Linked DNA regions of Homo sapiens. The protein of the gene in region 2 purifies or fractionates together with the protein of the main gene of each other region. This does not show direct contact. Each region holds a gene or a part of one and is shown on either strand. Other genes may lie near its edges. The genes, in order: ENPEP and ZCCHC14.

Evidence for each region.
Region 1: the proteins of ZCCHC14 (region 2) and ENPEP purify together in Homo sapiens (affinity purification with mass spectrometry; one large-scale study listed by BioGRID and IntAct). This does not show direct contact.

The regions. Positions count from the first base shown.
Region 1 is NC_000004.12:110,506,892-110,510,713, forward strand, and holds part of ENPEP (glutamyl aminopeptidase), read left to right. Parts: intron 1-2,761; coding exon 2,762-2,916; intron 2,917-3,353; coding exon 3,354-3,467; intron 3,468-3,822. UniProt on the Homo sapiens protein: Regulates central hypertension through its calcium-modulated preference to cleave N-terminal acidic residues from peptides such as angiotensin II.
Region 2 is NC_000016.10:87,416,449-87,420,270, forward strand, and holds part of ZCCHC14 (zinc finger CCHC domain-containing protein 14), read right to left. Parts: intron 3,430-3,822; coding exon 3,335-3,429; intron 2,454-3,334; coding exon 2,399-2,453; intron 1,295-2,398; coding exon 1,012-1,294; intron 1-1,011.

The DNA.
Region 1 (3,822 bases), on a different chromosome or scaffold from region 2:
TGGGCTCAAGTAAGCCTCCTGCCTCGGCCTCCCAAAATGCTAGGATTACAGGCCTAATCAACCATGCCCAGCCTGTACTGTGTTCTTATCTGATGAATATATAATCTTGTGTTTCCAAATAAAGATGAAAGTATGTGCACAAAATGGCAGAGCTTGGTAGTGATGGAGCCACAAATAGCAACGTAGATCAGTTGATTTCAAAATCGGCATTCATCCCAATACTTGCTCTGCCTCCCTGTCATCAGCGAGTTAAAAAATAATAGGGATAAATGATGTTGTAAGAGCCCCATGTGCTTCCAGTCTTTCCATTGTTGTACAAGGCAAATTCTAGATTCCCCAGCAGTTTAATGAAATACTGGTGCTCCTTCCAGCAATAATTTTTTCTAATACAGAGGGAGACATGCATTCTTCATAAAGCAAAAGTGGGGCTACAACCAAAATGGTGTGCATATGACATTTCTATCAATAGTGGAAATGCTTTATTAATAAGCTCGAGAGCTATTAACAAAGACTTTAAATATAACACCCATATAGATGTTTGTAGGGATGAAATGAAGGCAGTAAGAAAACAAATTAGCCAACAGTTGGCCTCCCTGTATCTGTTTCTGCCTTTACTTTAATAACTTATCAATGCACACAAGGGGAATGCAAAATTCTCTGCATGGGAATGGCTGTGGCTCAGAGCAAGCTTGTAGATGCTGCATGTCTCTTCAATGGATACAATTCTATTTTTTGATTGCTTAACAAATGTTAGAGAAGGAGCTGGAAAAAGAAACAAGTTTTCATCAAAATCAGAATATTGGGCCAGGTGCAGTGGCTCACGCCTGTAATCCCAACATTTTGGGAGGCCCAGGCGGGCGGATCGCTTGAGCCCAGAGGTTCAAGACCAGCCTGGCAACATGGTGAAACCCCATCGCTACAAGAAATACAAAAATTAGCCAGGTGTTGTGGCACACACCTGTAGTCTCAGCTACTCAGGAGGCTGAGGTGGGAGGATCACTTGAGCCCAGGAGGTTGAGGCTGCAGTGAGCCATGATTGTGTCACTGCAGTCTAGGTGACAGAAGACCTCATCTCAATTTAAAAATATCAGAATAATATTTAATAAAATATTGTACACATGAATTTAAAGATCCTTTGCCTTTTATCTCAGTTGTAGCACCCAGGATAACCTGAGAAGTGGAAATCTCACAAATTTATTACTCTCTTCTCCTCTCTTTCTTTCTCCCTCTCCCCAACTCCTTTATTCTGTTTTATGTGCATTTTCAACCCTCTCAGAATTAATTATATCTTAGACTCCTTAGAGGTGACTTCTGCATTTATTAGACTCCAAAGAGTTAAATATACAAGAATTAGTTAGTTACAATGCCAGTACTGACCAAAAAAAAAAAAAAAAAAATGAGATTGCAAAAAATTCCTTTTGTTCAAGGATTAAGTGCAAACTGCACTCCACAACATTATGAAAAATATTGGCCCTTGGGGGAGATACTTCTCTACTTTTGAAATGACTGTCTTGTGATAAAATAACCAAACCTAAAAATGAGATAACATGAAAAGGAAACTACTATTGTAATCTTGACCTCTACTTAAGATACATCCCTCTTCATTCTTTTATAAAAAGCTCTAAGAATATTTATTTTGGCTGGGTGCGGTGGCTCACGCCTGTAATCCCAGCACTTTGGGAGGCCGAGGCGGGTGGATCACGAGGTCAGGAGATGGAGACCATCCTGGCTAACACGGTGAATCCCCGTCTCTACTAAAAATTCAAAAAATTAGCCAGGCGCGGTGGCGGGCGCCTGTAGTCCCAGCTACTCAGGAGGCCGAGGCTGGAGAATGGCGTGAACCCAGGAGGCAGAGCTTGCAGTGAGCCGAGATCGCACCACTGCCCTCCAGTTTGGGCAACAGAGCGAGACTCTGTCTCAAAAAAAAAGAAAGAATATTTATTTTAACCAGAAAGAAAGGGCCTTCTCTTATATGTTAAGTGAAAAATCAATTTGTTTTCATTTCTGTGCCTCATTTAAATTATACATAATAATAAAGAAATTACATTCTGTTTACAGTTCATTAACTGGGGAAGCTGTATTTTGGCCACTAATCATCTGAGCATTTTCTGTCTTGGGATTTAACATAGAACTGATCAACACTGCCTCCTCCTGTCAGATATTATGTGTAAGACTATAGAAACTCCTGTCCAACATTTTAGAACTGTAAGGGAATCTAGAGAGAATATAGTCAACTCCATGTTTCTCCAACCAATTTAATACATAAAAGCGGATGATAAGCTATTAGATTGGTATTTCTATCAATATTTTATAGAATTAGAGAAAAATGGAGTTTTATATTCTTGAATAATCTGTGTCTTTGGATGGAAAACTGTATCTATACACTTGGAAGCTCAGAACTTCTAAATACTAATTTGAAAACTTCTCTTTTTCCTCACGGCTTATCCCCTAAAACACATGTAGCTAATAAAAATGAAATACAGAGAGAAACAAAAGACATAAAATTATAGAGGCATTGCCATTAGTGTCCTTCTTTAAAACAAAAACAAAGCATTGATATCTGGAGCCAGCAGGGAATGCTCTATGGAAACTTTGAGTGCATTAGGACTGAAATGTTCGCACACATGATTACAGTTCTTTACTCTAAGAAATTATTTTTAGGCTTTTAAAAAACATTCATCCAAATAACTTAATTTGGTAAGAAAAGCTATGAACAAATGGAAAGAATGTATTTCTCACTGGACTCTTTCTTCTTCTATAGATAAAATCGCTATTCCAGATTTTGGCACTGGTGCCATGGAGAACTGGGGACTCATCACGTACAGAGAAACGAACCTGCTTTATGACCCTAAGGAATCAGCCTCATCAAACCAACAGAGGGTGGCCACTGTGGTTGCCCATGAACTTGTGCATCAGGTACAGAATCTTAGCACTGAATCAGCTTGTTTTTTTAAAGTGGCTTAAGACCACAGGAATAATTCAAATTATTTATGACTTAGCAAATAAAAAATAGCCAACTCAGAAAAACTTGCATGAAAATCTTTCTTGGTACTAATAAACATTTAGCCATAAAGAGACTTTGAACCACATTGTTTTGCCTTTAGGAAATATGCACGAGGCCTTCATATAAATTTATGTACCCCAGTAATAACTAAATAAAGGCAATAAACTAAAGACAATTTAATATCATTTAAATAATCAGAATAAAGCAGGAAATAAATGTTAAGTACAATGCCTGCCACTTCTGTCACAGTGACAACATTGGCACGGACAAATAAATGTTTTGACATTTTCTAGGCCTCTCTACCATACCCATAAGAATGTAATTATCTCTTTATTGCTTATAATTTCAGTGGTTTGGAAATATTGTGACCATGGACTGGTGGGAAGACTTGTGGCTAAATGAAGGATTTGCTTCTTTCTTTGAGTTTCTGGGAGTAAACCATGCAGAAACAGACTGGCAAATGGTGAGTCCTAAACACATAAACTTGAAATCTCTCTTTTCCTCATGCAAAGCAGATGGAAGCCTTTGGACTATGATAATGGTCCCGAGTCAGATGGCAAGTACAGTGGTGAGCGGGGAATTCCACTGTGAGGATAGGGTGGAGCCAGCTGACTTCCACTGACTACACCTTGCCCCAGTACCTAGAAGGGCAGCTGATCATCACAATCTGGGGATATCCTTGACAGAGTCACTCAAAACACATTATCAAGGCAGGAAAAAAAAAAAAAAAACAGGTGGCATAGAAAATGTTAACTCTGTGTTCCAGAAAGTATCTATAGCACTAACCCTTTGAAAAAATGTCGGAGTCTCATTTGTGA
Region 2 (3,822 bases):
TCTGCTTTTTAAGATTCACAAATCCTTGGCCAGGCGCGGTGGCTCATGCCTGTAATCCCAGCACTTTGGGAGACCGAGGTGGGCAGATCATGAGTCAGGAGTTCGAGACTAGCCTGGCCAACATAGGGAAACCCTGATTCTACTAAAAATACAAAATATTAGCCAGGTATGCTGGTGGGCACCTGTAATCCCAGCTATTCAGGAGGCTGAGGCAGGAGAATCGCTTGAACCCGGGAGGCAGAGGTTGCAGGGAGCCGAGACCATACCATTGCACTCCAGCCCAGGTGGCAGTGCAAGACTCTCCATCTCAAAAAAAGAAAAAAACATTCACAAATCCTAAACAAAGGGTATTACAAATATACTTACAATTTGGATTTAACTATGTAGTAAAAGCTTGATTTCTAGGTTCAATTGTAGATTTTTCGAGAAATGAAATTTTTACATAGATAAAAGCCACCAAGCCGGTTTGCCCAGCAGAGGGAGTCCAGAGCTCAAATACCTTGTATGGGTTTAATCTAGTTTTATCACTGACATCAAGACTTAAGAAATTTCTGAATTTTTTTAACAGTGAAAAAATGTTCCTCATAAGAATTCTCTAGGTACGACTGCTTGGAAGATGTAAAATGCACCCATTCCTCTAGATCTGGCCCGCCGCAGTGTCTGCGCCAGCTACGCCGAGAAATGTCTAAAAGGGGCACCGTGCCAGAGCTCAGGATTTCTGTCCACAGCAGGGCTCTGGGGACGGACTGTCCCTCCCGTCACGCAGAGCATCTAGTTTGTGAAGGTCTTGAAGCCCCTAGACAAGCTGTTTGTTTACAACATGTCCTGTTTGTGGCTGGCTGCAGCTGCAGGCGGCCTCCGCAAAGCCCACCGTCTCCCTTAAGAACAGGCGCTGCGCCTCGGCCTCCGTACTTCATCCACCTTGTGTTGGTTTGGAAACTCAATGCCCCCAGGGAGGTCTTGAGTAAACAATCTAGCAATTCTGTACGGCCAGCCAGAAAACCGACATACCTTCTCCATGGAGAGCTGCTTAAAGACGGGGTAATACTTGTGCAAACGCAGTTTCCTAAGCCAGTCTAGAATCCCATTCTGCTCCTGGGTCTGAGGGGTCTGCAGACTGGAAGGCATGAGGATGGCAGGTGATGTGTCCATCTGGGTCCGGTAGGCCAGGGCTGAGCCCGCGCTGCCCGCATGGGAGCAGTGAGGCAAGGGGGCGGCGGAGCCGGCCGGGTGCTGCCCGTGGTGCTGGGCTCCGCTCTGCGAGGACGGGATACCAGCCACTCCACACACAGGCCTGTGGGACAGGGGCAGGAGGGACACAGAGAGACTGTGGCTTCCACAACCACAGACTCCACCACAGACCTCACTTCCAGGCCTTTCTGTGCCAGCCTCTGCCTCTTGGCCGGCCCTGTTGTCACAGGCCACCCTGAACTGCCAACACTGCTGTGCTATGACTGCCCTCCCTCCCCAACCACCTTTCTGCAGCTAAGATTTCTGTAATGCATGTCTGTGCACACGTGTGCATACAGGCGGCTGTGCATATACACACACATGCCTCTGCCCGTGCTTCGGAGTATGCGTCTACTTGTGTGTACGTATGTGTATTATGTATGTGTACGTCTCTGTCCCCACCAGACTTCTGCTTTAGCTGCCAAGTTTCTGTTACTTGTATTTTTTAAAAACATGCTACTCCGATAGGTATTTCTGTTACTTCTAAGTCACAGAATGACACTGATAAATCATACATCAAAATAGACTATTAAATCTTTAATGTTCAAATACAATTTTTCTAGAAAAGTAAAACGCAGAAGGCTGGAAGGTGTGACCGGCACTCCACTCTGGCCTTGCTCCTTAACTGCAAAGTCACACCTGCTGACTGGGCGCTTACCCTACCCCGACACCAGGAGGATGCCAGTCTACGCCTCGAAACCTCGCGCCCAGACAACATCTCCACGAGACTCCCTATGGGGGTGCGTGTGCACTGATCTGTGACAGCCCACCTCACTGTCAGCAAAGATGGGAGCCTCTGTGTTGCCGGCATACGACTGCAGCTACCCAGGGCCCGTGCGGACAGAGGACGCTCCTCAGGAGCACGACCCTATGCTTCTGGGAGCAGGTTTCTCACAGCCAGATTCTCGGAAATTCTGACTTTCTACGTCTATGATGGGGCCCAGGACCTTGCACTGGGGAGGAGTCCCTGGGAATTCTGATTCCAGTGGCTTAGAGAACTCTTTTTTTGGAAATCGTAAATTCAATCATCTCTACTCAATTCTTCTCAATATCATCCAAGACTCAACTTGAGCATGACTTAATTCTTGGAACAACTTTACACAGAACTCAAAGTAAACATTGTAAAATGCTTATCTGAACTGTGCTGGTTACATAGAAGATTTCTCACCTTCCAGACACGCCCATCACGGTACCTACTTTAGAAAGGGAGGGATTGCCAGGACCTATAAATTTAAAAATAAATACCATAAAAATTTACAGACAATGAAAATATTTGTTTTATTTTATTATTTTTTGAGACGGTGTTTTGCTCTTGTTGCCCAGGCTGGAGAGCAATGGTGCGATCTCGGCTCACTGCAACCTCTGCCTCCCGGGTTCAAGTGATTCTCCTGCCTCAGCCTCCCGAGTAGCTGGGACTACAGGCGACTGCCACCACGCCCGGCTAATTTTATATTTTTATTTTATTTTGGAGATGGAGTCTTGCTCTGTCAACCATGCTGGAGTGCAGTGGGGCAATCTCGGCTCACTGCAACCACCGCCTCCCGGGTTCAAGTGATTCTCCTGCCTCAGCCTACTGAGTAGCTGGGATTACAGGAGCCTGCCACCACGCCCGGCTAATTTTGTATTTTTATTTTATTTTGGAGATGGAGACTTGCTCTGTCAACCATGCTGGAGTGCAGTGGTGCAATCTCGGCTCACTGCAACCACCGCCTCCCGGGTTCAAGTGATTCTTCTGCCTCAGCCTCCCAAGTAGCGGGGACTGCAGGCATGCATCACCACGCCTGGCTAATTTTTTTGTATTTTTAGTAGACACGGGGTTTCACCATATTGGCCGGGCTGGTCTTGAACTCCTGACCTCGTGATCCACCCGCCTCAGCCTCCCAAAGTATTGGGATTATAGGCGTGAGCCACTGCGCCCAGCCTAATTTTGTATTTTTAGTAGAGACAGGGTTTTTCCATGTTGGTCAGGCTGGTCTTGAACTCCCAACCTCAGGTGATCCGCCCGCCTCAGCCTCCCAAAGTGCTGGGATTACAAGCATGAGCCACTGCGCCCAGCTGTTTTTTTTTTTTTTAATTTATATTTAACCATATTTTACAAACTCACTTGGACTCTGAAGCTGCTGTGGGGGAGAGGAAGTGCTGAGAAACCTCCTGACATGGTCATTTTTCAACACGTGAGAAGGTAATGAGGCCAGGTACCTAAAAGGCAAACAAGTGGTCTTATCAACATTAAAATGGCATTCCTGCTGACGAATTGAAAGAAAAAAATTTAACTTTTAATCAAGAGAAATGTGTATTAGAGGAAAAAAGCCAGAAGTGCCAGAGCCTCATATTCTTCCTGCTTTAATTCAACTGAGTTCTTGCCCGACTGCCACTGCTTCTTCAAGCCCTTCCTCTCAATGCTGTATTCATGGCCACCAAGGTTGACGACAGCAGTCATGCCCTGTGACATGAGATCAGTGCCACCCACCAGCCAGAAAGGTGCTTGGACACTGGTCCCCAGGGCCCCGGCAGCAGCACATTTACGGAACTGGTCGGCCATGTTACTTCGTGTGCCACGTGAGCCAAGACACGATCGAGGGTCCAGAGAAA